2 separate regions of the Homo sapiens genome follow, and region 1 is linked to region 2. Evidence: fine-mapped expression QTL. A gene starts in region 2. The other region holds a variant in brackets. All regions are shown on one strand. Distances are from middle to middle.

Region 1 (16,277 bases), 32 kb after region 2:
AACATGATGAGTTTTTTTTGAAATTTTCTTTTTCTCATCAGCTGCAGTTAATGTTAGTGTATTTTATGTATGGCCCAAGATGATTCTTACAGTGTGTGTGGCCCAGGGAAGCCAAAAGATTGGACACCCCTGTTTTAAAGGATGCAACTTAGGAACAGCCCAAAGGAAGTGACACATGGGACGAGGGGTGGGAGTCCCCATGCCCCCTGGGGGAGACACCTCCTAGTGCACCATCCCAATGAGTTCATGACGTGGAGGCTCCCCACATCCCATTTTTCAAGAGTTTTTGCAGCCCAGTCTCCTGGCCCCCCACCCCTCCCAGAGGTTGGGGTGTAGGGGGTGCAGAAAGTTCCCACTCTCTAATCACACGTTTTGTCTTTCTGGCAATGACCAGCTCCCCTCCAGGCTATCTAGGGGCACCCCCCAACCCCACTGGTCACCTCATTAGCATAAGCTCAGGTGTGGTGCACTGGGGCTCTCTATGAATCACTAAGGGCACTCTTGTTGCTCAGTAAATACCAAGGGCTTTAGGAGCTCTATGCCAGAAACCAGGGACCAAGACCAGAGATCTTTTTTATTATCCACCTGGGCAGCCCTGTCAGCCTGCTGCCCCGCCCCACCCCTCCCCTCCCCATCCCCAGCTGGCTGCGCCCTATTTAAAGCCCTCCTCTCAGTAAAACAGCTGATGCGTGCCTATTTTACATTCTTTTCTACCCTGGGTCTGACGAATCATGACTCTCACTGTGCTGGTAACTCCCCCGTTCTTGCTTCTCAGGAAGCAAATGTAGGAAAAATATAGTAACATTTCTAAGGAAGCTTAGAGATACAAAATGTTTAAATGTAGCACAAAAATTGTGACTCTACTTATAATAACGTACAGAAGAATAACTCCACAGTAGAAGTTAGGCATCCATGGCTGCAGGTTTTCTAAGAAATGGGACGTGTGGGTGACCTACTGCACTGCCCACTGCCCTCTGGAGGGAACCATGGGGTAATTAGAGTCATTGGCCAAGAAGGGCCAGGGGTCCACGCAGCTTCCGCCCTGAGGAGTTGCACTGTGCAGTACAGCCAGGCGGCCACAGGAGCCACTGTGGCAGGGAATGCATGTGTCAGTGTGTCAGGCGTGGTCAGTAAAAGGAGTTGTAGAAGGTAAACCGGAGAAAAACTCAGATTTTAATCCCTCGGAGTAATCTTTGGCCTCTCCTCCTTCCGTGTGTGATGTTTCTTTGTTTTTAATTTTTTGACCTTCTGCTTTTTGATTCGGGATTTTGGAGCCAGAATGCCTTGGCCCCGCCATGAGGTCTGACTTGTGCTGGCTACTTTACCCTTGGTGCCTCCATTTCCTTCACTGGAAAATGGGTGATTGTGCAGAGTACAGTGAGTCAAACCATTGAGAGTGGTGCCTGGCACACAGCATTATTTAAGTATTTTTGCACTTAATTTCATGTAACATAAAGCACTAATAAGTAAAAAAAAAAAAAAAAAAGAAAAAGGTATATTGCAACAAGAAAAAGGATGGTGCTGTGGACATGGGGTGTGGTTGCTAAAGGAATTTCTAAGAATCAGACTTCAAAAAAATGTTAATATTCTGGACAGAATTCTTTTCTACAGAATTCTTTGAACTTTAAGAGCATGATTGAAATTTCTGTTACAGTGTGACTCCAGTTAGAGGTAAACTTAGTGGCTCTATCTAATGCTGAGATCTTTTTAAAGGATGATGTTTGCATCTGGCTTTGATCTTTTGAGAGGTAGATTTATGTGTCCTGATTAAAAAGTACAGTGCTTTTCTTACAACTAAGAAGGCCTGAAACTTACTGTAAGGTTGTGTGTGTGTATGCGAATGTGTGTTTACATAACTGATCATATTTAAAATCATTTTCTTAGAAGTAGAAGGCTATAGAATATCTGTCATTTTTAGAGTGTGTAGATATGCTCTAGAAACAGACCACTGATCTGTAAAATGATCAGGTCAGTGATTCGGATTTGATTCTTGTGTGAATCACAGAGTGCTATATTGCCTAGGATATGGATATCGATATTTAGTAATCTGAATTATTTTTCATTATTTTAAACTTAAAGATCTTTAACAGGTCAAGAAAAATAATACTTCTGAAAATGTATTTCTACCCCTTTAAAGTATTTCAGATCCAGGAAGTCATTTTGGGTTAAACAGTTTGGCATTTCAGTTTGCTTATCATTTCAATCTTCAGTGTTTGGCAATTCTGATGTTAATATCATGATTTCTTTTTGTTTGTTTGTTTGTTTTTGCTTTTGTTTTTGTTTTGAGACGGAGTCTCGCTCTGTCGCCCAGGCTGGAGTGCAGTGGTGCGATCTCAGCTCACTGCAAGCTCTGCCTCCCGGGTTCACGCCATTCTCCTGCCTCAGCCTCCCGAGTAGCTGGGACTACAGGCGCCCGCCACCATGCCCAGCTACTTTTTTGTATTTTTAGTAGAGACGGGGTTTCACTCTGTTAGCCAGGATGCTCTCGATCTCCTGACCTCGTGATCCGCCTGCCTTGGCCTCCCAAAGTGCTGGGATTACAGGCGTGAGCCACCGCGCCCCGCCCAATATCACTATTTCTATCCCCTTTTATATTTTCCATTCTGACTTTCTAGTAAAAAAACATGAGGGCTGGCGGGGTGGCTCACGTGTGTAATCCCAGCACTTTGGGAGGCTGAGGCAGGTGGATCACCTGAGGTCAGGAGTTCAAGACCAGCCTGACCAACATAGTGAATCCCCGTTTCTATTAAAAATATAAAAATTAGCTGGGTGTGGTGAGGGCGCCTGTAATCCCAGCTACTTGGGAGGCTGAGTCAGGAGAATCACTTGACCCGAGAGGTGAATGTTGCAGTAAGCCGAGATTGGGCCACTGTACTCCAGCCTGGGCGACAAGAGTGGAACTCCCTCTCAAAAACAGAAAGACCTAATTTAGACAAATATTTCAAGAAGTTTCCCATTGTTTCTAATCATGTCACTTAGGTAGAAAGTAATGTTCTTTTCTTATCAATAGAAGGCAGCTTTTTTAAAGCTGATGTTTCTCAAATAGAGGCTACTGAGATTTGCTTTGAGTTCATAAAGCTTTCTAGAAAAAGCATGTACCTGGGTTGACCGCTACTGGCAGCTTTTTCTAACCATTGTTTTCTTCTGTCTGAAGTAAAAACCCTCTGGTGTGAAAGCTGCCATTCCTTTGTGAGGCCTGCCCATCACTCAGATCTATATTTTTCTCCGCAGCTGTTCCCAGAAGCTTCCTCAGACTGACTTCCTCCCTCCCAGGGCTGTTCCAGGGCCTCATTTTCCACTCCCTCCCAGACACCCTTCAAAATTGGATATTGTCGTCAAAGTGTCCAGGAACTCTTCAGCTCTGAGTCTTTGAGAACTCAGCTTGTAAGCTGCGTCCTGCCTGTGGAACTGCCGATCCTGGCTCAGCCGAGGGCAGTGTCTGAAGGATGGCGGAGGGGGTAGCGTTTGCAGAGGCTGAGAATGCTGTGTTAGCAGTTTCCACCGGTGTCTTCCCAACAGCCTCTCGGAGCCTCCTGGGAACTCTTGATCTCTTTGGCCCTGAGTTTGAGAACCATAGATTTATTTAGACTGTTGATTTTTAACTTTCTCAAGGCTCAGCTCATTATTTGTTTATTCCCAAAGGAGAGCCTTCTGCCCCATGGAATAAACAGCACTAAGCATCCTTCCCATTTGCCTGTGTTTGGTCAGGATAAGAACCTAGAAAAAGGAAAATGTTCCTTTCTTTGTTCCCGGGGAATGTGGGCATAGTCCTGGGTTTCACTTTAGCCCACCTGATGTCCTGCCTTTTAGATAGCTGATCTAGCCTCACAGATGTGCTTCTCCAGAAGTGGCCGGATCTCTGGTCCTCCTCCCTCCGCAGCACTGGGGTCAGCCGCATGTTACTGATGCTGGGTTAAACATTGAGCCAGTACTTGCCTGTCACTGTTGGCTCAGCATGCAGTCATTATTGCAGAGGACATGGGAATAAGTCAATGACAAAAACACTGTGCTTCTGACTTCAGGGAGGCTCAGAGGCATTAGTGACCTCCTACTAGAGTTTTTCCCCGAAACTCTTCTTTCTGGAATTGACTTCTTCTCCCCTCCCATTTTCACAGTGAGTGCAGCTTCCTTTCATCTGGGAACCAGAGTCCTCCCTGTCCTTGCCCTGCATCTAGGTCTCCTGGTCCTTCCTTCACAGTGTGTTCCTGGCGACCTCCCACATCATCCCACGTGTCCACATTTTTTTTTTTTTTTTGAGATGGTCTCCCTTTGTTGCCCAGGCTGGAGTGCAGTGGTGTGATCATGGCTCACTGATGCCTTGAACTCCTGGATTCAAGCAATCCTCCTGCCTCTGCCTCCTTAGTAGCTGGGACTACAGGTGTGTAGCACCCCACTCAGCAAATTTTTTTTTTTTAATTTTTCTGTAGAGACAGGCCCTCACTGTGTTATCCAGGCTGGTCTGTAACTCCTGGCCTCAATCCATCCACCTGCCTCAGCCTCCCAAAGTGTTGGAATTACAGGCATGAGCCACCTACCATCTGGCCGTCACTCACCTTTTTGCCAGTGAGTGCCAAGGATATTTTTCTTTAAGAAACCAACATCAGCAATTGCAGTTGTTTCTCGAATCCTCTAACACTGGCTTAGTCCCCCTTGTCCCTCTCCTTTCCAGCCACCCGCTTGAGGCAGACCTGTCTTCTCGCCGTCTGGTACACGTGCCGGCCTCCATCAGTCCATGCACCTTTGCTCATGCTGGTTTTTCATCCCTGGAATGCCTCCTTGTTTCCCACATGCTCAGCTCAGGGCCATCACCACTGCACCTGGAACCTGCTGGGCAGGTAACTTCAGTGTCATAGAAAGACCCCATGGTGTCTGGCATCTGTGCTTCATACTTCATGTCTTTCCTTCCCCTTCCCCAGTCCTCTGTCAGCACCCAATACCATAGTATCCCTTTGACACTATGGTTCATTTCTTATATGCTAGAGCATCCTGGTTTATGGATATTTTTTCTTTGGAAGACTTGAAGCAGCAGTCACCCACTCAACAACTATTTGAGCACCTACTCTGAGCCAGGTGCTATTTCAGGCCCTGGTGATCCTGCGGTGGAAAAGGAGCACCCAAGTGCTTGCTCCCCTGAGCTTGTGTCTGGCAGGCTGCCTGGAGAATCGGTAGTGGTGTGGACTGTTGTCTTTTGTTCTTATGCAGTGTTTTGGGTAGTCCAGCAGTCTTTTCTTTAACTGTTTTTATTTGCCTTAAACAAGACAAAACCCTCTGTTTATAAGAAAGATGTCAGAGGTACCAAAATGAAGTGTGCATCTGGAAGTCCTCAGGTGGAAGATGTGGATTTTTCCAGCTATCTTTTTTTTTTTTTTTGAGACGGAGTCTCGCCCTGTTGCCCAGGCTGGAGTGCAGTGGCACAATCTTGGCTCACTGCAACCTCTGTCTCCCAGGTTCAAGCAATTCTCATGCCTCAGCTTCCAGAGTAGCTGAGACTACAGGCACGTGCCACCACACCCAGCTAATTTTTGTATTTTTAGTAGAGACAGGTTTTCACCATGTTGGCCAGGCTGGTCTCGAACTCCTGACCTCAAGTTATCCCCCCGCCTCAGTCCTCTAAAGTGCTGGGATTACAGGTGTGAGCCACTGTGCCCAGCCTCCAGCTATCTTAGTAACAGATGTTTTAGGTACCTGAGTCCTCCTCACAGTAGCTGAGCCCTTACAGCAAGCCTTAACTTGGCTGTGTGATGATGGTCTGACTGGTCTGACAGATGCTCAGTATTTTCTGTGTTGGCAAAAATAAAATTGATGTATTGGTCAGAATCTGGTGGCCCTCCCTGTGAATGGACCCCTTGGGCCCTGGTGTGTTGAGCCCCTGGAACAATGTATTTGGGTCCCAGAGTCAGATTTGATCGTCTCAATTTGGGCAGGTGTCCACTGCAGGTCTGGTCATGTGGCTGGGGAAGGCACACACACAACGAACTCTAGACCTGGCTGTTGGGGCCTGTCCACTCTGTGGTGCGGTAGGGAGAGGAGGTGTCAAGTTGTCTGGGGCCTGGATGACGAAATCTGTGTTCCACAAGTACACTCAATTTTTAACTCACGTTTATTTTGTAACTTTTGTGAAGCATTCATTGGACACTGAGTACTGGGTATCATCTATAAAGCCACTTTTCTTTTTGAGTTATGTGTTGAAAGAAATGTGGCTTAATGAGCCGTGTAGATGTACAGCTGAAAAAACGCTTTCTAAAATCATTACCAGTCCAGGCACCGGTGGCTTATGCCTGTAATCCCAGTGCAGGAGGATCAGTTGAGGCCAGGAGCCTGAGGCCAGCCTGGGCTGTATAGCAAGGCCCTGTCTCTACAATGATAATAATAATATAATAATAATAATAATTACCAGATGGATTCATGTAGAAATTGAGTCACACCATGGTGTCTGAATACCTTGTCATCTGATGTTAGCTAAACTTTAGTTTTTAAAAAATAGTAATAAGTGGTATTTGTTGAGGGGTGGTTTTTACGTGTTAGTCATGTTGTAAGTAATTTGCACTGTGTGTGGCATGTGGGTGCCTAATCAATGAGAATTTGCCTGTTTCTTTGTGGATTTTTAATTTTTCATGATGGGAAATTTCAAAATTTAAGAATCCTGAATCCTGGTGTGCCTGTCACTGGACATCAGTAGTTAACTCACCTCATTCCCTTCCCTGATCTCTGGGCTCCCTATTAGATTATTCAGATTCCAGGTAGATAGATAATTATTTTTAACCGAAATTTAGTTTTTAAAATTTAACTTCAGATTGATCTTGTTTGAACTTAATCATTTTTCCTCTGACTTGCTTATTTTTTTCAGTTGTCATTGTAGCACATTGATGTGTTCTTTCTTATCTCCTTTTGGGTTTTAAACATTATTTATGAATTTATGCCTTAACTTAAATTGTCTACAGCTTCTGCTGTAGACAAAGGAGCTGTTTGTTTCATGCAACCTTTCAAGTGAAGAATAATCAGCTAATTACAACTGTTTGAAAATTAGCTTCCTTTTTGTTTGTTTGTTTTTCCTTCCTACCCTGGGAGCCTGGCTGGCATCACTGGGAGCACCACACCTCCCGGTGTGGTGAGCTTGGGAGCTACCTTGATTCACTTGGATTCTTTTAATGTGTATTTGTGTTTTTGTGCACTAATCAGGCTCATTATTTTCTCATCTGTAAATGAGAAACTTGGAATAGCTGGTCATCAAAAAGTTCCTTTTTGATTTTGTGGTTACCAAAACCAAAACAAAGCACCACCACCAACAAAAAAAACAGTGCGAGGGATAATTGTTGACCGTCAGTTGCTTAGGGAGTTAATGACTTCCACCTGGGAAATAATTTGAAAAAATGTCCCCCTTGTATTTTGGTTTGGCCCAATTTGGTGTGGCCTGGAGCATGTCCCTTACTGCAGGCCACCTCTGGGGGTGTGGGTGCGGAGCAGGCCATGCCTGGCTGGGGACCTCCCCTAGGAATCTCAGTGCTCTGCCCTGCCATTCGCTCCCACTTCCTGTACGTTGCTACAGTGTCCTGGGTGGGGACACCCCAACTTCC[G/A]TCCCAGCGACAGAAACCGTACATCCTGGGTTTTCTGTAACACTCAGTTTCTTACCTTTTGCCCTTTATTTCTATAAGTCCTCCAAATATCTTAACATTTCAACATCTTCTGGAAGCAGCCAAAGCACGTTTGGGGGAGGGAGTTCAGAACCCCTGTCACCATGCATATACCAGGTGGGCCCATTTGACTGGGACAGGGTGGCCGCCCTCCAGGGTGTACAGTCACCCAGCTGTGGTTGGGGGCTGCTTCCTGTGCCATGCCATCTGCTAGCCTACCCACCCGTGGAGGGCTCCTGCATGCTGCCAGCCTTGGGTTGTCCCCTGGCCTGGCAGGGGACCTCTATGACATTTTGAGCATGATCAGAAAAAGGAACTTGTGGATTTTCTTTTAGGGTTAGCTGGTGAGCAGATGATGCCAGCTAGCAAGCCACCTTCCTCCTCCAGCCAGCCTCCCTCGTTTTAGCTCAGCCATCCCAGCAGGGCTGGACTTAGTCCAGGCTCCGGGCTCCCAGCTCCTGGCTGCAGGGATCTTTAGCAGTCGGACCACACGTGACTATTCGAGGGTACCATAGCCCTCTGGTTTCTTTCTGGTAGTCAGTACTGCTGACCTCACTTTTCAGATAATCTCTGCTCTCCTCTGGCCTTGGGGTTCTTCCTGACCCCTTGGAGCCTCTCTCAGTAAATGGAAACCTCCTAGGGGTTTCATATAGGCAGAATCTAGTATGGGGAGTGGCTTCACGAGAGTGTGAAGGGCTGGACAGCCAAAGGCATCTTCCCCAGAGATCAGAGACTAAGAAAGCTGCCGCTGTCCCTAGGTCTGAAGGGCAAAATGAGGCCTTGAGAGTTCCCAGAGCCTGAGAGCAGGTGCTCTCCTCACTGCTGCTGCCGCCGAGCAGGAATTCTGAGCCCACGGCCCTGCGGCTGTCACTGGGCACTCCACCGATGGCAGCTGGAACCTTCTACTCTCGTCACTGCTGCTTTAGGAACCTGCTGTCCCCATAGCCACGAGCCGGGGTGTTGCGGGGGGGCAACGCTTTGCCCTTCCTCCTGCCTTTTAATGTTGCACCTGGTTGTGTCTTTGACAGAACTTAACCAGAATCCAGCTGGCAAGGGTAGCTTTCAGGTACAGAGGAGGGCTGGGGCAGTCCTCACACCAGGAGGCCACATCTTGCACACAGACTCCTGAGAGTGTGGGTGGAATGAAATGACCCAGTGCTCACCACCTGGCACGGCGTGGGTGGAGAGTGGTAGGTGCTGTGCATTTTCTGTATGGATCAATGGAAATGGGATATTGATAATCATGCGGATTATACCCACACACCAAAATGGAAAAACAAAACAAATGAAAAGTTTAACATGACCTGCTTTGGCCAGTGGAAATGACTATAAATGACTTCAGTTGCAGCTGTTCTCCGGGTAACAGTCTGTGGACACCAATGCGCACAATTCCTATCAAGGTCCTGTGTGTAGAGCCACTGTGGACACTGTGGTTCTCTGGTGCATATGTTGTGGGTGGAGAAGCAGACCACTTGAAGCCCTGGTAGGAACTGTTTGCTCCTGTCAAGCAGGAAACAAACACGTGCATCTTGAAAATGCCGAGCTCCCTTTGCAGTTCTGTGCTCGTATTGAAGAGAGGATCGGTACTGGGGTGACAGCTCACAGGATTCCAGCAGCAGCACCTTGGTTTCGCCTAGCCGTTCAGCCTTTGCCTGTCTTCTTGTCATGGAAAGTTCTTTTGTTTGAGACCTGGACTTTGTGAGTCTCTCCTAGCTCCCTTATTTGCACCTGCCTTTTCTCCTCACCTTCTTCAGCTGTGCTTGGAGGAGCTGCCAAAGTGGCAGTAAAAGAAACCCCATTGAGCTCTGTGAAGTGAGAGAAATTTGTCCTAAGGACAAGATGTGTTGTGAAGGAGATGTTGGCAGGCCTCTGGGACTGGGTCCCGGGCTTAGAGGGGGACTGGGGACCTAGAAAGCCCCCTGCCTCTCAGCTCTATCCCTCTGCACATTACAGACTGGCCGTCCCTATCCCAGCACATGTGGTAGTGACCTTTGCCAACATCCTGGAGGCATGTGTCTCCAGCAGAGGCTGGAGCCTTCAGGATCTGTTCTGTGTTCTAGCCTTGAGGAAAGAGCTGCTTTGGCCCAGTTTGGTCAGCTGCCCACTCTGACCACATCTGCTGACCATCCTCTGTGGCGTGGGAAGTGGTGGTGTGTAAGAACACACCTGCCCTTAACACTGTGTGCATGGGGACCAGGGAAGGGCGGTGATGGCAGAGGGAAGAAGCCCTTGGTTCTGGGCAGCCTCTCCATGGGGATTTGCCGGCAGAGTTAACTCTCACAGAGTAATGCAGGATGCTGGTGGCTGCGTGAACCAAAGGTGCCCCTATTAACTGGAGTTTCTGCACATTCCTCCTTAGGCTGGGAAATCATGCCCTTGTTACTGCACTGGTTATGTGTATCAATTGAGATAATGGTTATTTTTTTCTTCTTTCATTTCTTATTATTTTTGTAGAGACAGGATCTCACTCTCTTGCCCAGGCTGGAGTGCAGTGGTGTGATCATAGCTCGCTGCAGCCTCAAACTTCTGGGTTCCAGTGATCCTCCTGCCTCAGCTTCCCAAGTAGCTAGGACTATAGGCACACACCACTATACCAGGCTAATTGAGATAATGGTTATTTTTTTTTTCAAGAGCTTTAAGAATATGCTTTAAGAATATCTTTTTTAAACTTGGAAATTCAATATTTAAATGTTAAAACAAATAATTGAGAATAATTTTCATTAATAATCCATCATAAGGCTGGGCACAGTGGCTCACACCTGTAGTCCCAGCACTTTGGGAGGCTGAGGCAGGTGGATCACTTGAGGTCATGAGTTTTTGGCCAGCCTGGCCAACATGGTGAAACCCTGTCTCTACTAAAAATACAAAAATTAACTGGGCATGGTGGCACATGCCTGTAGTCCTAGCTACTCTGGAGGCTGAGGCATGAGAATCGCTAGAAACTGGGAGACAGAGGTTGCAGTGAGCCGAGATTGTGCCACTGCACTCCAGCCTGGGCAACAGGGCGAGACTCCGTCTCAAAAAAAAAAAAAAAAAAGAATCCGTCATAAAATGTGTTTATTAAAATCACTCCTGAAGAAAACAGAAAACACCTAGACTTGAGGCTTTTAATCTTTTTTAATTAACTAAAGGGGATACTTTAAGTTGATTGCCATGTGACTGTTATATATAGAGCTTCAGTCTGTCTGAATATGGCTGCATCTCTGCCACCTACCAAGTGGTGGGTGGCTGCGTCCAGCTGAACTTGGCTTCCTGGAGCTGGGTGCAGCCTCCTGGCTGCAGACCTGAAAAGGACTGCCCATTCTTTGTGCTTTACACTTGGCCTTGTGGGCAGATGGAAAGGAGAGCTTGCTCTCCGCCCACGGGAGACGTATGCAGGTGGAGGAGAGGAGGAAAGAGCTTTGATTTTTTTTTTTCCCACTAATCAGCTTTTGAATTGAGCCTCTTGGTCAGACCATGATTTAAAACGCACACTCACATACATATACATAGTAATTCCCTAGCAGAAATGTAGCTTTGTAGAGTCCTCACGTTCTGTATGATGGATTAATTCCCTTAGTTATAGGAAGGAGAAACTGATATGGGGAAAACAGCCTGAATGCCATAGCCTACGAGACCGCCTTCACCCTCTCATTCAGGATAGCGTGTACATATCCACATACTTCACAGCTCAGCGAATTCTCAAGACCTCCTGTGTGTGCTTCCTTGGGTTATTTAATTCAATTCTACTCTTTTCATAAACTACTCTAATTTCCGTTTTTCCAGTTTTGCCTTTACCTTATTCAATGGCATTATTTTAACTGAGCATATTTTGGACGTACTAGAAATGAAGCATATTTCCTTTGTTTTAAAATTTCTGGTTGCAAGATTAATCAAGAATAATAAATATTTATTGTAGAATATTTGGAAGGTTTTTAAAGTGAAATTTCTATTAATAAAACCATTGCTTCTCAGCATCTAGATTAAGTTGGGACCTGATAGTCATAAATATTTAGATGTCTGTCACATTTATTTCCATAATATGGGAGAGAGATATATACACACACACACACACACACACACACACACACACACACATTCATCTAAAGGACACACACACATACTCTCTCCCTTTCTGGCTCTCTCATTTTCGTTTGGTATCTGGGTTAAAATTCTAATGTTCATCCTCAAATCCTGCTTCTCGCTCATGTCCTGTGTCACATCCATATAGATGTTGAATAAAGTGATAACCACATTTTTGTCATCTATACCTGGGCACTATTGAGAGTGGGAGGGGTGCTGTCTGTAATTATGCTGAAACATCAGTCACCAGTCAGAGCCCCTGGTCACTGATGTGGTCTGAATGTGTCCCTCATATGTTGAGATCCTACCCCCCAAGGTGATGGTATTTGGAGGTGGGGCCTTTGGGAGGTGATTAGGTCGTAAGAGGGGAGCGCTTGCAAATGGGATTAATTTCCTTACGGAAGACACCCCAGAGGGCCCCCTCACCCCTTCAGCATGTGAGGACACAGCAAGAAGCCGCCGTGTAGGAACCAGGAAGGAGGCCCTTACCAGACACTGAATTTCCTGGTACTTTGATCTTGGACTTCCAGCTTCCACAACTGTGGGAAATAACTTCCTTTGTTTATAAGCCACCATTCTGTGGTATTTTGTTACAGCCAGCCAAATGGACTACCACAGTCACCCAGCCTTGACTAAGTGACCCTCTCTTTTCTCATTGCCCGAATCTAGATTTTGTCTCTCACCTGGTCGTGGTCTTCCTGTCTTCTTGCTTTCAGATTTTTCTCCCTCCCACCCACCTATTCCGGGGTTGGCTTTCAAAGATACAGATCTAATTGTTTTACTTCTCTTCTTATAAACTATTAGCTTCCCATTTCCTAGAGGTGCCTTTGTGTTGTCAAAGCACCTTTAAAATCTGATCTTTGCTCCACCTTCTACCATTCAGCCCTTGTGAATTTTATGAACATGATTACTCTAGGTATTCCCAAGGGAGCCGTGCACTTTTTACACCTCTGTGCCTTTGCAGGTCCTGTTGCTGACACAGGGGCAGCCTTCTCCCATCTCCGCTTCCACCTCCACCACTCATCCCTTCCCACACTGCAAGACTTGACTAAATGCAATCTCCCTTTTGAAGCCTTCAGGATTCCCCCAGCCAGAACTAGTGACCCTCCTTGGCCTTCTAGTCCATGTACGTCTGTTTCGTAATATTTCTGCACTCATTCCTGGAAGGCAGTACAGCCTAGCAGTTAAGATCTGGTTTGCTGGCATGAATCATGACCTGCCATTGCCATAGTGTGACTTTGGGCTGGCAGAGGTCTTTGTGCATCAGTTTTATTATCTGAAAAATGGAGAAAATAGCAGTCTTGTAAGGTAGTTGTTAGGTTTATAATAAAGAGCAATGCATGAAAAGTACAGAGCCTGTGGCTTGGCAAGTGATAATCCTGCAATTTATGTTGTCTGTGACAGAGCTGTCGCCTCTCCGCAGTACGAAAATTTGTAGACATGTCTGTTTCTCCAGTTGGAATGAGTCTGTGATAAGGACTCTGGCCACGTAGTGATGCTCATTAGGCATTTGCTGAATGAACTGGTATACGTGCATATGTATTCTTCCCTCTTTATTTCTTGCCGTAAATGCTTTTAACTGAAATAGGTACATACAGCTGTCAGTTTCTTGACTATGAAGTTGAGAATGTCCAAGTGAGTCCAAATTACCTGAAAACCTGCGGCCCATCAGGTCCCTCAAGCTGAGGGAGGAGCTCCTAGACAAAGACCTGGTTTCCCAGGTTTGAGGTCCATTCCTTCCTTACTCTGTTCTTACTATGACTGCGGGAAGTTGCTTTTGGGCTTCCGCGAGAGTGGGAGCCTATCACCGATCATCTCTTTCCCCTCTCTTTATAGGAGTAAGGGGACAACCCTCCTGGTCTGGCTGTAGGCAGGCGGGGTGGCCGGGCCCAGGGACTCAGGGTGGCCCTTCCTTCTGGTGTAGATGGATGGATTATCAGGCACATCCTGCTGATGGCTTCCACCAGCCCATGGGGATTAGTGATCTGCCTTCTCTCTCTGCCACCAAAAATCTCCCTAAAACTAGTTCCACTCTCTCCACAGCAGGTGTCAGAGTTGGGTTGATGGCCATTTGAGGACTTGAGAAGAAACAGTCTATATAATGAACGCTCTTTTCTTAAGTATTAAAGTTACTTTAAATTCTACACAAAATCTCACTTGAGGAATGCTGGCTATGTGAAGTGTCTTATGTTTTCATCCTCTCACTCTTGAACTCCATGCATAGGTAGTATGTGGTTTTAGTACTTTTTATTTTGTTAGAGCAGTTTTGTTTTCATGGCTAATTTAGCTCTCCTCATGCAACGTCAAATGATAGAACCTGATCGTTTCTGAGAGTGGGGGATCCGGCCCGTTGAAATCATTTGGCAAAATGGGCTGCAGCTGCCTGTAGAGGCGAAGTGGATGTCGGGGAGAAGAGGAGGTTGCAAAGGCTGTTAGGCTTGTGCTCAGCTCTGGCAGCCACAGCACCTGCCTCTCAGAGCTGGCTTCCAGTGACTAGTACTCACTTACTGTCCCCAACGCTCCCAACTGGAGAGGCGTAGGGGGCAGTTACTCCAGACACTTGTGCTCACCGGCTTGGCGAAGAGGGTGGCAGCCTCACCTTTATTTCCGGTGTCATAACAAGCCCCATTTGCAGCTGAGTTGGTCGACTATCATTTGCAACAGGTAAGCCTTAAGGCCAGAGCCTTTTTGGGTACCTGGGATATAACCGTGGAACAAGATAGATGGGGAAGCTGCCTTAGAATAAGAGTTGCAGAAGGCCAGAGCCCTGGGAGGTGGTTTAACTTTCTCTGCAGCACTGCTTTGCTTTCTGCCGCAGCAGCTGAGGAAGCCAATTTAACCTTGAATTTTCTTTAAGATGATATGTAATCTTTTGAAGATGGAAAGTAATGGCAGTGGAATGTTCTGCGTGCTGTTTGTAGCCTCGCTAGAGCTTGGGTGGGCCCCCATCGCCCTCCTCCTTTGGGGAGCCTCTAAGAGTCACTAGAGGAGACTTCCCTGAGCTTCCTTCCTCGGAGTGAGGCATTAAATTGTGCCCGTGTTCTGGGGTAGCACCGTGAAGGCCCGCGTGGAACATGGTTTTTATTTAGAGTAAAAACAGCTCGATGCAGCGTTGCCTGTCTGAGCCAGACTTAGCTCTTCATCTTCACCTGCTTGTGGGAAGCTTCGTACACCACCAAGGCACAGGTTAATGTGCAGTATTTGCCACCGTGGGTGCAGTTACTAGGAAGGCAGCCGTTCGCGGAGAATAATGGTGTGTTTTTTCCACCTTGTTCCTCTGAGCATCATGAAATACCTTAGCACGAAGAAACCCTGTAAATATTCTGGGTAATAGCCCTACATAAATGTATTCAGATTATGTTTTTTTTTCGCTAATAGGTGAAAAATGATGACCTCCACTCTTTCCAAGAGGGGTGGCCTGTTCCTGAGCGACTTCAGTGTGCTTCCCCACAGAGAGGGTTTTGCAGCTGGAAACAAGGGCATTTCTTCCCAGAAAGTGGGAGTTGTTTCGCTTCTCCCTTTATAGTACTGCCTTGTAGCAATCTGAAATGTGGATATATTTGGAATTTGCACGAGAAAATGAAACACCCTTTCTCTGCAGAAGACAGAGTGCCATTGCCTTTGCAGGTCACTGAGTAAGCAGCAGGACCTGCTTCAGCTGGACGGCAGGTCCCTTCTGTGGCACCTGGTTGGCCTCAACACCATGCGTGGCATTGGCAGTGATGAAATTCATTTTCATTCAGGAAAGCGTCACTGGGAGCTTTTCTTTTTTGAGAGAGGCTCTCCCTCTGTCACCCAGGCTGGCGTGCAGTGGCGTCATCTCTGTTCACTGCAGCCTCTACCTCTTGGGCTCAAGTAATCCGCCCGCCTCAGCCTCCCAAAATGCTGGGACTACAGGCATGAGACACCACGCCCGGCTGTTATTTCTAATAGGAAGTTGCCATCCCTTTTCTCACCCCAGTGGCATTTCTGGGGAGCAGTTTTCCCACCTGCTGATCGGACTCCTTGTGGTGGTCATATGGGCTTGGGGTGAATCGGGAGGGGAGAGTTTAATTTGCTTACATGTCAAGCTGTTTAAAACAGCCTTTCAGGCTAGTAAGTATTGATGCTGGTTATATTGAGGTGAAGGGGCATGTTAAATTCAAGATACATTTGTGTTTCCACTATGTGGAGCCTCGCTTGTGGAGGGTACAATGTAGAGATGTATTCAGGTCTTTACAATGTAGGTGAGCATAAATGCATTTTTATCATTTCTATAATAATCACATTTAAATTGAGCATGTCTGTGGTTAGGCAGGCAGTTACAAATGCTTGCCATAAAAGATTCTCATTTAGTCTAGTGAAAACTATAACACCATCAAACTTGCCCCTGGAGGAGCAGTGTGTCTGTTGAGGTCCATCCGTTCCTCAGCAGCCACTGTTCCAGGCCCGTGTTTCCCACACTTCCCATTTCAACATTCTTAGAATATGCACAAAGAGTGTGTCCTCAGATACTGACAGAATAGGATACACGAGTAAAGTTAGGAACACGTGCATGCACTTAGGCAGCCTCCCAGTTTGAAATGCTTTCTGAAGCAGGTAGTT
Region 2 (16,277 bases):
TTTGTGGTGGCTTGCTACGACAGTCATAGGAAACAATACCCCATCCAGTGTGGCTCTGAGTGCTGGCCTTCAGGAGGGGTCACTTCTCCAGAGTCCCTGCAGGTAAAGGTGTCAGTCCTCTCTAACACCTCCCTATGCCCTGAGGCCCCTGGCCCAATGCAGACATGGGAAGTGTCTGATAAAACTAGAGTAAAATGGGTGAAATCAGTAACTGTTAAGAATTCTCAACATGAAAGTGATTTAATAGGATATTAAAATAAGTGCAATTTATTGATCATGGTTGCACTTCTCAGATACTTTGTAAATCAATATTAGATATTTGTAGGAGACATCATGAGAAAGAAATCACAGCCATTTGTTTGCTTTGTGACCTTAGACAGGTTTTTTAAAGCTTTTCAACCTCAGTTTCCTTATCTATAAAATGGGGACCTTCATGCCTCCCTCACTGGGGTTGTCAGGATTAGATAGTGTGCTTGGCCAGTGGTAAGAATGCAACAGATGATAGCTATTAACAACTATTGTGTTAATAATAAAAACTTACAATGATATGTAGCTAAACCCATTTGCATTTTAAAAATGTTATTTGTAAATAGTATATTTTTATCCCACGCCTTTCCTTCAAGAATCATCATTAACTGCCAACTTTGTATGAGGTGTCAGTGAGATACTCTGGGGAAGTCAAAGAAATAATTTTGGTGGTTCATGCCTATAATATAATCCTAGCACTTTGGGAGGCCGAGGCGGGCAGATCACTTGAGGTCAGGAGTTTGAGACCACCCTGGCCAACATGGTGAAACCCCATCTCTACCAAAAATACAAAAATTAGCCGGGCATGGTGGCATGTGCCTGTAGTCCCAGCTACTCAGGAGGCTGAGGCAGGAGAATCACTTGAACCCAGGAGGTGGAGTTTGCAGTGAGCCGAGATCATGCCATTGCACTCCAACCTGGGCAACAGAGTGAAACTCCATCTCCAAGAAAAAAATAATAATAATAATAATTTTGTCCTGAATCAGTTTATGATCTTAAAATATCATATGGACATAAATTACTAGAAAACAAGGCATTTTTGGCTATACGCCCCGGCAGAGTTTCGGAGAATGAGAGGAACTCCAAGGAAAGAGAGCTTATAGCATCATGGATGGGAGGGAAGGCAATGCAGACCACAGACAGGAAGCTACACGGGATTATTCCTCAATGCAGCCTACTCTCCGCTGGATTTGCATTGAATTCACAGGAGAAAGCCATCCAGTGCACTGCAGAGTGAAAAAGAGATTATGTTACAGTGTCTCTAAAACATATCTTCCTATTAACCTATTTGTTCTTTAGTGAAGACTGTGATTTTAAAAAAAGCAACATCCCACTTACCAGTACTCTAGTTGAGAATTGCTTTATATTTTAGAAGTCTTCCCTTTCATTTTTTTTTTAATTTTATTTTTGAGATGAAGTCTCACTTTGTCGCCCAGGATGGAATGCAGTGGCAGGACCTCGGCTCACTGCAACCTCCGCCACCTCCTGGATTCAAGTGATTCTCCTGCCTCAGCCTCCCGAGTGGCTGGGATGACAGGCACGTGCCACCATGCCTGGCTAAGTTTTGTATTTTTAGTAAAGATGGGGTTTCACCATGTTGGCCAGGCTGGTCTTGAACCCCTGACCTCAAGTGATCCACCCACCTCGGCCTCCCAAAGTGTTGAGATTACAGGCATGAGCCACCGCTCCTGCTAGAAGTCTTCCCTTTTAAAACATGCAAGTAAGCACTGAATGACTAGGCTGTAAGTAACTGGAGCCCTCACTCAATGGCAATCTCCTGCTCAGCACTTTACTTTCAGAAAAAGGTAGCAAATGCAGGAAAACAAGCAAATTTTATTAACTTTTTAAAAAGTAATTTGAGCATGGCTCTGACTTAGTACAGATTCTTCCACTCAATCTTCTACACACTTAACACTATAAAATGAGGATGCATGTTCAGAATGATGACTCAGAGACATTATGAGGCACCCCACATCAAAAAGGGACTCATTTCATTTACTGTACTGTGCTTTCCAAGGTGAGATATCTGCCTACAATATACGTACATATATTTTTAATTTCAATTTATGTTCCAGCTGAAGGGAATTTCTGGTTGATCTTTAACCAACACGAAAATTTAATTTAGCAAAACAACTCCTTCCTGAGGCATTCTGATTAATTGAGGGTTATTGTAGCTAACATAAATGTCTCATCCATGATGTTCACCTAAGGTGGATTTCAAAATGGCAATTTGCGTAAAATTTTAGCTTTTCTAAAGGTACAGAGCTCTCTTAAAATTGTTCCTATCTGAAACTAACTCTACCCTGCTGCTAACAATCAAAAACAATGTAAAATTGTGATCATTTTTATTTTTCGGCTCAAGCACCTGTTAAATTTTAAAGTTATGATGTGTAACGTTGATCACCACAGGAAGTGTTTGACAAAACACATACTGAAAAACAGGTCGGTGTTTAAGTGCACTTCCGTTCCTTTTTTTTTTGATACCCTAACTTACATTCAACTTTATAGTGTTACTTCATCTGTTTTTCCTTTATTTACACAATTAGATAAAGCATAGTTACTTCCTGAAGTCCAGATCACAATTCTTAGAGAGAGGCAGGAGAATCGTATTGATCATCCATAGAGGACAGCCCACTTTTTTGGGGGGTGTTTATGAACTTTAACTCTTTGTAGTGGTGGTTTGTAAAAAGTTAATCCTGCCAGTCACTGAGAGATGGGTTTCATGTGTTTCTAAGCTGCCCCTTCTTGGGTCTGAAGAGGTAGTGAAAAGGTACTTTGTAGTTTGGGTATGAAATCACCGTGCCGTCTTAAGACTCGTCTCTTCCCCATGTTTTCATGTAGGTGAAATGAAATGCAAAAATCTATACGTCCACCGGTATCTGTTTTGAGATTCTCATAGCGAGTTCCTAATGGCCTCTTTTTAAGTCTCTTCACTAATGCTCTCTGTCCTCTTTGACACACTCGTAAGTGTGGAATTTCCATCCATCGTGAAAGATTTGCAAAGTGTCTGTTCTGTACTGGGTAGGCCGGAGAATGGTCGGGGCTGTACAGGAAAACCAGGCTTGGCTCCTGCCCTCAGGGCGTTCATATCAACGCTGAGATGAATGATACAATTAAAGAGCAATAGGCTCATTACTCCAGCAGGGTATTTATAGTAGTAATAGCAACTTTTCTAGCACAGAGGCACGTGAGGGCAGGAACTGTGGCTTGCTCATTTGTGTACCTCCTGCAGTGCCCTCTCCATGTAGTAAGTTGGCAATAACTATTCATTACATTTAACAAATGTACAAAAACAAAACCGTTCATCCCTCACAAGCCAGTCCTCCCCACTTTTCTGTTTCTGATCTCGGCACCGTTGTCTTTGCAGTTTCCCACATCCAAAGCCTCAGGTTATATTTGTGCCCCATTCTCTTTCTCTTTGGTCCCCCACATCCAAGCAGCTGCCAATTCATTTTGAGCCTCCCCTTCCATTTCTCCTAAAACACTTTCCCATCTACTCATTCCACCCCAGTTGGGGTTATGAACTCTCTTGGAAATGCGAACTTTTGTCTGCTCTTCCTGTCTCCAGCTGTCCTTCCGTGCATGCACCAAATGAGTGTTCCTGGGCTGAGCCCAGATGATGTCCACACTTAACTGCTTTCCTTCTTGGCCTCGCGATCCGCTCTGTGCAGCCTCTGCTCCATTTAGGCAAGTGGGCCATTCTCTGTCCCTACAGGGTCCTCCCACGTCCCCCTGTCTGCCTCAGAGTTCTGAACTCCTGCCGCTGGGAATTTTCTCCCTGTCTATCTCCACCTTTCAAAATCCTACCATTTGCATTATTCAGGGGTTTGGGTTCCAAAAAGAGGAAGTGCCTCTGGGTACCTTAAGCAGAATAGGAGAATTTACTAGAAGAATATCAAGTAGCTCACAGGGGAACTGGAGAGCAGAAGGGGTGAGAATGGAGCTGGCTAATTCCTGTGGGAGGGATGTGCTGGGACTATTTCAGCCATGGCAAATTGAATCTCACCCTCTCTTGTCCTTTTCACCCTCTCCAGTTTCACAGTCTTGAGTGGGAGGGTTCCATTGGCCAATCCCAGGCTGTTCACTCTCACAGGGCTTCTGGGAATGGAGGGACCAAGGTGCCTACTCTGCCTCCCTCCAGGGTTCAGACAGGCTTCTCTAAAACCAGGAAGGGGCTAGAGAGGGGGGCAGCCAAATTAAAGGCAGCTTCCCACCATGTAATCTCTCAAGGTCATTGCCAATGCCACCACCTTTCATAAAGCCTAAAGCTTCTCCTGATTCTCTAGACATATTTTCTTTGGTACTGTTCATATTTAGTTTTATATTATAGTTATTTGTATGCTGGTTTCATCCTTCCTTTTGGGTCTTTCCTCTCCATTTCTCCTAAACTATTTTCCCATCCTTTCACTCCACTCCAGTTTGCGTTATAACCTCTCTGAATAATGCAATCTTATATCTGCTCTTTGCACATCCAGGTGTTCTTTGGTGTCTGCACCAAATGAATGAATCCTGAAGTGGATCTTATAATGCCTTACAAATAGAACTACACCAGATATGCTTAATTGAATTGAGGGTTACAAGAGAAGGTCATGAGAAAGGAGACATGAGTGTTTACCATGTGCTGAACACACAGTTGAGACATGTTTATATTATCTCCTTTAATTCTCACAACGCTTTGCAAGAGCACTATTAATATCTGAGGCTCAGAGAGGTGAAATGACCCCAAGGCACAGGCTCCAAGGTAGGCTTTGAGCCTCTGACGTATGACTTGGACAACACCCTCAACCTTGCTTTGTGTTTTCCGTGAGTCTAAGGAGGGGTTAGAGAAGGCCTTGAATGGAGCTCTGAAAGAGAAGGACGGGGACAGGGAATTCCTAGCTGCCTTCACACCACAGAAGGCTGAAACTAGTGTGACTCAATGTGGCACTGTGGGCAGAGCTGAGTGACTGAAGCAAACAGCTTATACTGGACAGAGGTAAAAAGGAGATTGTATGGCAGGGCTAAGTTGGAGAGGCCTTTGGAAGAGAGATCATAAGATGTAATGCTGATGTGATTTTAGGCAAAAGTTTACTGCACCTCCTTCCACTCCATGTTTTTTATGCTTTCAATACTTTGTGATTGAAGACAGTAAAACAGATGTGGACACATTAATGGAGTAGAATGCAGAAAAACCTATATATTTTTAGATAAAACATAAGCTTCAAAGAAATGTCTCCCCCATGTTAAGCCTTGCAGTGGGTTGGATGTTGGCCCCAAAAGATATGTTCACCTGGAAGCCGAGAACGCGACCTTATTTGGAAAAAAGGTCTTTGCAGATGTTGTAAGATAAGGATGTCGAGATGACATCATGCTGGATTAGAGTGAGCCCTAAATTCAATGATACTTGTCTTTACAAAAAGAGAGAAGGGAAAGGACACAGGGAACCAGGTTGTGTGAAGACAGAGAGGCAGAGGTGGGAGTGACACTGCCACAAGCCAAGGAATGTCTGCAGCCACCAGAAGCTGGAAGAGGCAGGGAAGGATTGTTCTCTACAGACTTTGGAGAGAGGCTGGTGTCTTGATATCAGACTTCTGAACTCCAGAACTTTGAGAAAATAACCTCTGTTTTGTCACCTAGTTTGGGGTCATTTGTTAAGGCAGCCCCAGGAAACGAACACAGGCCTCTAAGGGCTAAATACCCCAGCCTCTCTGGGGGAAAATGCTCAGTCTTCAGTCATCAGATAACTTTTGAGGAGACTGTGGTGGGCAATGGGGAGCCATGAGAAGTTCTTGAGCACAACCAGGGACAAATGGAAACAATTTACAGGAAGGTTAGGATGACATTGATGTCCAGTGTGAGTCTGAGGGATTTAAGAAGGAAGTAATGGGAGACCAGTTGGAAGGCAGTAGTTGTGGGGAATTGAACAAGAGTTTTGGAGTCAGGTACATGCTCTGACCCCAGTTCTTTGATCCACTGTTCAAGTGATTTCATCTGTAAAATGGGTATAATACTATTGTGTGTGGATTAGAGATGATATATGTCAAGAATTCAATCAAGGTACATTATAACTATTGCTAGAATGATGTATAAGTTAGGATGCCAGTGATGGAAATGGAAAGAAAGGTGCAGTGGAAAAGATGTTTAAGAATCACCAGGACTCAGAACCATGGGGGTAGTCTGCAAGGGGTCTTGGTGTCATTCAGCGCTCTCCCAGCTTTTCTTGGGGAGAACTCGGAGAGAGGGAAGGAAAAGCCAAGATAACAATGAGATTTCTCCCAGGAGCTGAGGTGCCTGGTAGACTCTTGGCCAGGCCTGAAACCATGGGAGGAGGAGCTGGTCTGGGGAGCAGATGAGTTTCATTTTGAACATGGTGACCTAGAAGAGATGCTGCGCCATGTTTAGGGGGTGCAGATTAGCTGGGGAGCTCTGCAGATTAGCAGGGGAGCTCTCTAAGGCTACAGGTCTGGGGGTTAATCAATGAAGGTTTAGACAGGGAGTGTACAAAAAACAATCAACTCTCTCTTTAAAAAAAAAAGGTGCGTATCAGAATAAAAACAAAGGGCCACCATCTGCCTTGGGGATATCACTTTTACAGGGTGGGAAGACAACAACCTCTCTAGAGGAGGCAGATGGGCAGGTCAGAAAGGTAAGAGAATCAGAACTGGCTGTGTTTGATGAATGAAAAGATGATGGTGTTTCAGGAAATAGCAGAAATGCCACATATTTCAGAAAACTCCACAGGATAAAGATTGATAAAGGGCCACTGGATTTAGATAGAGAATGACATCGGTGACTTCTAAAGAATCAGAGAAAGAAGAGGCATGCAAGAACCACGATTCAGTGAAAGTTTACAAAGCAAACAAGCTACAAACTGGGTCAATATTGCTATACTTATTTTGAGTAAATTAATCTAAAATTGGGCAGACTGATGACTAGAATTCTTCTTTTCTTATTGTAAAGCTAGATATTAGTAACACAAAACTTGCACAAAAGGATGAACTGAAGTAGCTTCTTTCACAAGGTCAAAACAAGGAAAAATGAGGCTGTTCTGATTCCCTGAGCTTGTACCTGATTCCTGCTCAGTGTACTGTGCTTCCTTCCACTTACTGAGCTATTGAGGGCTACCTACTGCCAGGGTACTTCACATAGGAGGTAAGTAAATATTATCTCCCCATATGACAGATTTTAGAAAGGCTGAGGACCACCTGTGCAACGTTACACAGTTCAGGAAGTCAACAGTCAAACACTCACCTGTCTGACTTCAAAGCTACGCTGACTCTAGTTACCTATCCTTGGGTACTTCCCTTCTGGAAGGAAGCAGGAGATGAGTGAATCAAATAATACAGCCTTGTAACCTTGGGTAAATTATTATTGCCTTAATAGTAAGCAGAGACCAGGAGCCTAAGAAAGAATCTCATTAACATGGATGCAGGCTATCCTGCCAGGAAATCAGAATCATTTGAATATTAGGATTTCCTTTGGGAAACCATATGGGGAGGAGAAAAGACATCCGGATGCATGTGTCTGTGAAAGGGAAACTTGTGTCTTTCCCCTTGCTCTTGGGTTTTCATCTTCCAAGTTTGTTTATAGGCTAGCCACAACTCGAGGCTGGGTGAGCTGAACGGTCCCATCATTAGCGACACTCCTTCTAGGGGCACATTCGGGCAGCTCCTCTTCGGGTTCTGCCCCCACGGGTGTGCAACCAGGATTCCACAGGCTGGGGCTGGCCTGGATGCCTGGGAGGCAACAGAGGTCGAGTTTCTTCTTCTTTTAGGAAGTGCCTCGGACAGGGATGATGGACTAAAAATGTGTCTGGTTGGGAAAGTAAATAGATGCAAAGCAAATAAATAAAAATGCCCACAAGCAATTACAGGGAGGAAGTGACATTTTTATTTAAGTCACTTTTCTGATGGACAACAGGCCTGCTTAGCTGAGTGCCGTGGGAATGCTTCCGGGAGGGGGGCGGCTGCCCAGCAACTAGAGCTTCGTGATAAGAACAACGAACAAACAAAAAAGAGGACGCAAAGCCCACCCGGCAGTCATCCCAGGCTGGAAGTTGCCGTCTGTGTTTTCACTCTCCTCCCCACCCACCTACCCTGCCCCCCACCGCCCGCACGCAATTTCGGGCGTGGGGACCCTTTCCTGCCCCCGGCGCCCGGCCCGTGCTGCGCCTCCAGAGCGGAGCGTCCCGCAGCCCCGCGCTATCCCGGCGCCCGTACCGGGACCCGGGCGCGGAGCCTGGCGACGACGGGGGGCGCCCCAGGTGGGTCTCGGGTCCCCGCCCCGCGCGCCCGGGCCTGGGCCGGCCCCTGGGCGGCGTCACGGCGCGGCCGGGGAGGAGCGCGGGAGGAGGAGGAAGAGCGCGGAGGAGGCGGGCGCTGCGCGCCGGGGGAGGGTCGCCGCCGCCGCCGCCGCCGCCGCCGCCGCTGCCGCGGGGATCGTCAGGCCGGAGCCGCGCGGCCGAGCGGGCGGCGGGCGGAGGGGAGGGCTTGGCGGCCGGGAGGCTCGCGGCGCCCGGGCCGGCAGGGTCCGCCCGGGCCGGCAGCGTCCGCCCGGCGGCGGGAGGAGGGAGCGGCGCAGACAAAGAGCGGCGCCTGGGCGGGCGCAGCGCGGCCACCGCCCCGGGACCCGCGCCGCTGCCCTCCGGCTCCGCGGGCGGCCCACGGCGAGGTAAGCGCGGCTAGGCGGGCGTGGGGCGGGGGCCACAAACTTGGGGCCGTTGGGCGGAGTTGGGAGCGCGGCGGGGCTCGCGGGCCGGGGTGCGCCCGGGAAGGGGCCAGGAGAGCGGGTCCCCTCCGCGCCCCTCCGGTGCTCTCGGCCCTGCCGCGGCCTGGGCGCCCCCGACCGCGGACTGCCGGGCACCTCCCGGCTCTGCACCTTCCTGCCCGCCTTCCCATCCCTAACCCCCACCATCGGGGGCCGGCCCAGGGGCGGGGACGCCAGCCAAGGGCGCGGGCGAGGATCAGGGCAGGGGGCCCGGCTGCGGGGCCCGGGGACTGGAGACCCCCGGGTGCGCAGGCTGCGCCTGGCCTGCAGGCGGGCGGCCGGCACGGAGCTCGGGGCTAGCGTGGGACCGTGCGGTGGCCAGGGTCGCCAGGGCGCGTGTGCCGGGGAAGAATAGCCGCGGATCGCAGGGCCCCGGCGCAGGGACGGGGGAGGCCGCGATCGGCCGGGAGAACTTAACCGTGTTTATTACAACTATTTATGTTCGCGCACAAAGCTGCTGTCACATTGCATAAAGGAGGTCCTCGCTTCGGCGAAGGGAGCTTTTGTGCCCGGCTTCAGGCTCTGCGCCCTGCCCCAGATTTACAGGACTCTAACAGCCACCTGAATGAACCAAAGTTTCTCACAATCGCTCGGCTCTCTCGGTTTTTTTCAGGGCGATTTAATCACCGAGTGCTTTTGGAAAAATTTGATATGTGAGTTTTAAGGCATGGAGGGTAACTGCCTTATGAGCACAGTTAGCTTGGCATTGTGTGGAGGGGTTTAATTTGCAAAACGCTTTAATTTGTAGACAATGGGGATCTCTGTGAAGGTCTGCGGTGGATGCTAGGGGTCATTGGCTGGTGGACCCCAGGCACCTGACTTAAACTAGTATTGTAACAGCTTCAGGGACAAAGCCGAGCGTGCGTGGAGTCGGCCTTGGCCACTTCACACAATTCAGGTTGGCAGATTCCTCTTTATTTGGCTTTGTTTATTTTGCCAACAGGTTTAAGGCTGCTTCTGCCAAGTTTGCATCTGCATAATGGGATGAGCAGGCCCCAGTGTGGGCAGGAGGGGGCCTAAAATATCGCAAGGGCCAGCTCCGTCCCTCGACCCAGAAAGAAACAACCCTGAGAGGCCGGTGGGCGTGGCTTGCTGGGACCTACAGGTAGGGGAGTCCCTTCCTGGCCCAGGCGCAGTCCCCGCTTCTCGGAAGGGATTTTGTGTAGGAATGAAAGTGATTCAGGGTGTTTTTCATGCCTCTGTTTTAGATGTAGTTATCAAGTCTCAAAAGTGACTGAAAATGAAATTAACCTGGGCCGCTTTAACTTACCAAAACGGAACTGTGCGTGTGAACACTCCCTCAATTCACTTTGCAAGCTTCATAGATAAGCAGGTGAATTAGTAACAGGATTCAAGCCTTGCGAGTTTTACGTAAAGAGAATGGCAGTCATCGGACACGTGGAGAAGAAATTGACTTCACCTGGAGATTGGGCTAGACATGGAGGTTTTTTGACGTTTGGAACAGGGGTTTCCTGAGAAGCAAGTGTTAACCTGCTTGTGAAGAAGTGAACACGAGGGAAAATCCTACCTCAGTATATTCTGCCCTGGAGGTTGGTTAGATGTAGTTTTGATTGGAGAAGGTGGCGGAATCTTAGTGGTCTTCTGGCGGCTACTTGAGGCTGAAATGGAGAACTTTAGGCATAGGAAGCTGTGGAGGTGCCTGGCCCACTTCCTGTCCCGGAGGCCTCGCCTGGATTCTGAGCTTCTTTCCTGCTTCATAAACATTCAGGGGGGTTGGTCATGAAACACTGGATGAAATTGGGTCACAAATTGCCATCAGGAAGAGTTGGCTGCTGCATAACCCCCTCTGTCCACTTGTGGAGAAACTGACCCTGTTAACCGTCGGGCTTGCTGAAGGTGCCTTGCAGGTGGCTGTGCTCAGTTTTCATGCTTTGTGTTTTGCTTAGGACACGCTGCATACTTAAATCTTCTTCATCCTTGCTCTGTTTGACCCTGCCATATTCCCAGGCTTTGTCATTTACATTTTCGGTTATTTAGCTTTTCCAACAAACAGCAGATCTTATGTACACAGTACTATATTTGAGAAATGCACTACCATCCATATTAAATACACCGGAAATCTTCCTTGCATGTGCACAGACTGGATAACCTTTTAAAATACCCTAAGACTCCCGGAATGGCGCAGAATGCACTGGAGTCCTTTACTTGATCAGTTGCACTAGCTTAGTTTGCCCTGGATAGACCAGGCTGCGAGGCTCTATGGGACACCCATTTTTCTAACTGCTCAAACTGGCTTGCCGTGTGCACTGGGGGAGACAGGGCTTGCGGAAATCATTCTCTGACATTAAAAATGAGGCTTAAAGACTGAAGAGCTCAGAATTGCTTGCTGGAACTACAGGGGAGGATGATGAGTGATGTTTGGAAAAACAAGTAAGCTAACTTTTTTCACAAATGAACTGGAAACTCCCTACAGCTCACTTCAGATGCTTAGGAAATTAGTTTTCCCATCCAGAGGGTTTGCGAGTGGCACTTCCAAATGGTTTCTGTTTCCTAAAATGAGTGATGGAAATACTTCACGGCACGTTTTCAAAGGGCCTAAGCTAAAATGTGATTTCGTGTATCTTGTTCCATGCCTGAGTTAAGGCAACTCAGAAGAAGGTCGTGACGGCCTTTTAACGGGCTATCAAAAGTGTGCAGCTAAAGCAAAAACAGTTTTGCATTTCTTTAGGCCATTTAGTAGCACAATTAAAAAATTAGACTCTTTTCTTTTCCTGCATTTTCCTTTGAACATTTCCCAAAGTATGTTTATTTCTAAAGGTAAATGAACGTTAGCAAGTATTACCTCTGCCCAGTGACACACATCCACATGTGTACTGGCACATACATTCCTACCTCAAGAATCTTAGTCCTTGAAACTGTGGAAATGAAAGTTATTTTGATTGAGGTAGCAGTGTCACAGTGATGTCATACGGTGTCACTGTCCCTGACCAGCCTCTGTGTTCCCTCTCAACTCCTTGGCTCAGTCTCCTCCGTGTCCTGAGTTCTTACTCATCCCAAGGGTCGTCTCTTACTTCTTTTCTTCCCCACATCTTATCAACTCCAAACTAGAGGGGATGGCATCATCTTTAAACTTCCACAGCACTTTCTTTGTGTCCCTGATTTGTCATCTGTGACATTCTTTCCTGCAGTTGTTTTTTTTCTTTTTTTAAGGCAGGGTTTCACCCTGTCACCCAGGCTGGAGTACAGTAGCATGATCACAGCTCACTGCATCCTCGAGCTTCTGGGTTCAGGCAATCTTCCCACCTCAGGCAATCTTCCCACCTCAGCCTCCGAGTAGCTGGGACTACGGGTGTGCACCACCATGCTCAGTGAATTTTTTTATTTTTATTTTTATTTTTATTTTGTAGAGACAGGGTCTTGCTGCTTTGCCAAGGCTGGTCTCAAACTCCTGGGCTCAAGTGAGCCTCCTGCCTTGACCTCCAAAAGTACTGGGATTACAGGCCAGAGCCACCATACCCTGCCCTATGGTTTTTTTGCCTTCATCTTTTCTTTACTAGATTCTGAACCGCTTGGGGGCAGACTGGTCTTGCCACTTATACACAATGAGTGTGCAACAAATACTTATTGAATATGTGAATAATGAGTGCCCAGCCTGTTAATATTGGGGCTCTAGCCTCCCACTGAGATTCAAGTGGTAAGAGACCTCCAGCATTCTTGTAAATCTCAGAACTTCTGTCTACTGTGGAAGGCTTTGACCTCAGGATGTCCAGACAATGGGAGAATTTGGTCTGTTGGCCTCTCTATTTGGCAAATTTTCTGTCATGTGAGTCATTTGTAGTCCTGAAGCTACATTTAAAAACAACAACAGCAACAACAACAACAAAAAAACAAAGCCAACCCCATACTCAACTGTATTACCTGGTGGGCTGGCTGAATGGTTTACTTTTGTAGGTTAGTCTGTTCCTATCAACCTGAATTCAAAACGCTGGGCAGACCGTTTGTGATCCTGGCCTGGTAAGTTAGTTATTTGTGTCACCCCTTCTTTCTACTGTTGTATTGGTAATGTTTTTAAGAGAAGAAGCTTCAAGTGCACTCAGAATTTTAAGTATTGCAGTTGCTTCTTTTGAGACAATTTTGGAAGCTGGGGTGCTTACGTTGCCAAATTGTTAGTGAAGACCGAAAATGCCATGATGAGAGAATGACATGTACTAATGCATGCACGCTCATTCATTGTTTGCAAAGTCCTCTTCACATACACCATCATATTTAATAGTCGAATAACATGGTGCACTTGGTTCTGGCCCTCATTTCTAGGTAGGAGACTGGGGATGACAGAGCTTGAATTTAGGTTAAGTCCTTCTGCAGGCCATACATGAGGAACACCAACGTGTTGCTGGGTAGAGTTGTTTTTTTGTGAGGCAGTTTACAGAACACAGTGTCCTTGGGTATCTGCCTTTGCCGTGTCGCAGCTGTGTGTAGATATTGGTGGAGCAGATTCTGGATGTGAGTTGACTGAGGTTGAGCGGTGTGAGGGGAGGCCGGCAGGAGCAATGTCAGTCTCTCTTGTCCCCACATCCTGGTTATGGGCCAGGGTTACCCTGGAAAGCCTCCTCAAGTTCAGAAAGCTTATTCCTGTTTAGTGCGTGTATTAGTCAGCTCCAGCTGCCTTAAGAGAATAACACACAGAGGCCGGGCGCAGTGGCTCACGGCTGTAATCCCAGCTACTCGGGAGGCTGAGTCACGCGAATTGCTTGAACCCAGGAGGCGGAGGTTGCAGTGAGCCAAGATCACACCACTGCACTCCTGGGTGACAGCGTGAGACCCTGTCTCAAAAGCAAACAAACACACACACACACACACACACACACACACAAAACAACAACAACAGAATGGGTGGCTAAAGCTGCAGACATTTATTTTCTCACAGTTCTGGAGGCTGGAAGTCCATGACCCCGGGGCCGGCAGGGCTGGTTTCTGGTGAGTGTCTCTTCCTGGCTCGTCTTCTTGTGTCCTCACTCACGTAGCCTTCCTTCTGTGAGTGCACTGAGAGAGAGGTCTGGTGTTTCTTCCTCTTATAAGAACATCTGTCCTGTTGGATGAGGGCCCCACCCTTATGGTGACCTTTTTTAACCTTATTTATGACCTTTTTTAACCTTAATTGCCTCCTGAAGCGTCCTGTCTCCAAATATAGTCACTTAGGGGTTAGGGCTTTACCATATGAATTTAGGGTGGACAATTCAGCCACTCCCAGTGTGTCTGTCTAGGTTCCACAACAGGGCTGATGCTTTTAGGAAGACCTGGTGCTCCCATCATCCAGATCTGGGATCTCTGTTTATTTGGGGACACCTACCAGGGATGGTTAGAGTAGTCACAAGTAAGGAGGGAACGTCAGCTCTTTATATATTGGTTGTAGCACCCCATAACAGGGAACAAGCCTTGGTGCTGGCCTTCCAAAGGCTGGAAAGGTTTTAAGTAGAGTGATTGAAGAGAGAGAAAAATCTTGACTTGATTTCATTTATGGAAACTTCTCTTCAACTTAGGTAGGTAGACACTTATTTGGGGGTTGGTTTGTCTTTAATTGAGACCATGATAAAATATCAGTGATATGCAAAGGAAAGTTTTTTCTGAACCCTGGATGAAGAGAGCAAAGCAAGAGGTGGGGCCAATGGCAGCCAGGGTGGAGAGGCCGTCTCCTCTGAGCCTGCCATCTCTGTGATCGTGCAGTCTTTGCCACATGAGCAAACATCCCTTAGCAGAATGTGCATGACGGTGGTGAGGTGCACCCTGAGCGTGGCTGGAATGTTTCTGACCTAGGCCATTTTGCCTTGTTCAGACATAAGGCAGGGGCAATGCCTGCATGACTGACCTCCCTCTAGCTCCAGATCTGTATGTTCATTGATGCTTTGTTTGCTCATTCATTCACATTCATATGAATTATCCAAGTTCTTAGTGGTCATTTCCACCATCCCAAACCATTTGCAGCTTCTCCTGCAACCTGCCCGCCTTCTCAGTTATATTCCCCATCACCGACTCACTCGGTTATCCTTGAATTCTCCCTCAGCTCCCAACTAGTTATCAACCCCTATTGATTCTACCTCCAAAAGATCTAACATCTCAGCCCTGCTGTCCTTTTTCTGTTTCCCCTGGACATCAAAACCACTTTTTAACCATTCCTGCCAATCCATCCCAGGGTGACTGCACCCTGACAGTCAGGTCTGGCCATGACCTGCACACGGTGGCTCTCCATCGTACTTGGGTCAGTGACTCAAGTCCCCAGCATGGCAGTCATGGGCTTGCACGACTGGGCTGCCTCTCTGTTTCTCCCAGCATCTAAATATCCCCTTCCCCATATACACACATGCTGAGCTACAAGTCATCTGTGGCCACCCACTGATGGTTTGCTAATTGTGATAACAAAACTAAGTTTATAATCAGTTTGTTTTTAAAGACTCTCTCCACTGGGACTGGTTCAGGGTTCTCCTGTGCAGTAATGGCAGGGCTACCCCACTACAGCTTTGCATGGAACTGAGCATGGGCCCAGCTCTCTGTCATGGGAGGAGAAGAGACTAACTGCAGAAAATGGTGCGTATGTGTGTTTTAATATGGACTGTCTCCCTGCAAATGCCATTTGAACTGATGGATTGTCAAGAGCAGTGCTGACCCCTTGAAATACAATGTGAACCACAAATGCAAGCCCCAGATGTAATCATAATGTTCTGGTAGCCACATTAAAAATGTAAAACCAAACAAGTATTATTAATTTTCATCCTATATTTTGCCCAATATATATATAAACTCTATGTGTAATCAACATAAAATGTAATTAATAAGATAACTCATATTCTTTTATTTGCGTGAGGGCTTTGAAATTCAGCATATAGTATATACGTTTACTGCACCTCTTGGCTGCCTCTCGCTGCATTTTGATTGGCCTTGGCCACACGCGACTAGTGGCAGCCTTGTTGCGGAGTGTGAGTCTATACACTTTTCATGATTTAAGCCTCATTTGCTGTCTGTTTTCCAAAGTTGAGATAGCTAAAGAGACAAAGTGGAAACAATGTAGAATAATTATAATGGTCATTATTATTATGCTTTACTGGGAAAGGTGTAACCTTTTTAAATATGAGGAGTAATGTCATCCTTCAGACACTCAGCACATGATGTTTTAGAGCACTAAAATCAGATTCAGTTAAAACTAATATCTATCATCAAAATACCTTGTTCATTTTACAAATATCTTAAAATGTGGTTTGAATTCTAGAAGTTACCAGTGTAAAATAACATTTTTGTATATCAGTATTCAACACATTTCCTTTTAAAAAATGTGTTCAGCACCATAGGAAAGGTAAAAAACAACATTGTATACAGTGATGGGGTACAGGTGTTATTTTGTTACATAAATTGCCTAAGGGTGAATTCAGGACCTTTATTGTATCCATCACTCAAATAACATACATTGTACCCATTGAGTAATCTCTCATCATCCACCCCTTCCTACCCCATCACCCTTCAAGTCTCTGGTTCCGTCTGGATAATGGCCTCCA

What was found. PIP is the estimated chance that this variant, and not a neighbour inherited with it, causes the effect.
Region 1: its variant is fine-mapped to the expression of NCK2 in whole blood (TOPMed, PIP 0.92).

Annotation. Positions count from the first base shown.
Region 1 is chr2:105,768,657-105,784,933 of GRCh38, forward strand. The region is part of intron 1 of NCK2 (NCK adaptor protein 2); the gene reads left to right. Among named protein-coding and RNA genes, the nearest start is that of NCK2, 32 kb to the left of the region's middle. RefSeq lists enhancers at 577-1,079, 1,080-1,582, 7,869-7,968, 8,029-8,138, 9,249-9,749 and 1 more. The variant G/A (reference allele first, on the strand shown) is at 7,575.
Region 2 is chr2:105,736,463-105,752,739 of GRCh38, forward strand. NCK2 (NCK adaptor protein 2) reads left to right here and starts at 8,450. Exons shown (of 5, transcript NM_003581.5): 1 at 8,450-8,676. RefSeq lists silencers at 8,101-8,420, 8,611-8,670, 8,781-9,170 and enhancers at 9,541-9,610, 9,711-9,760.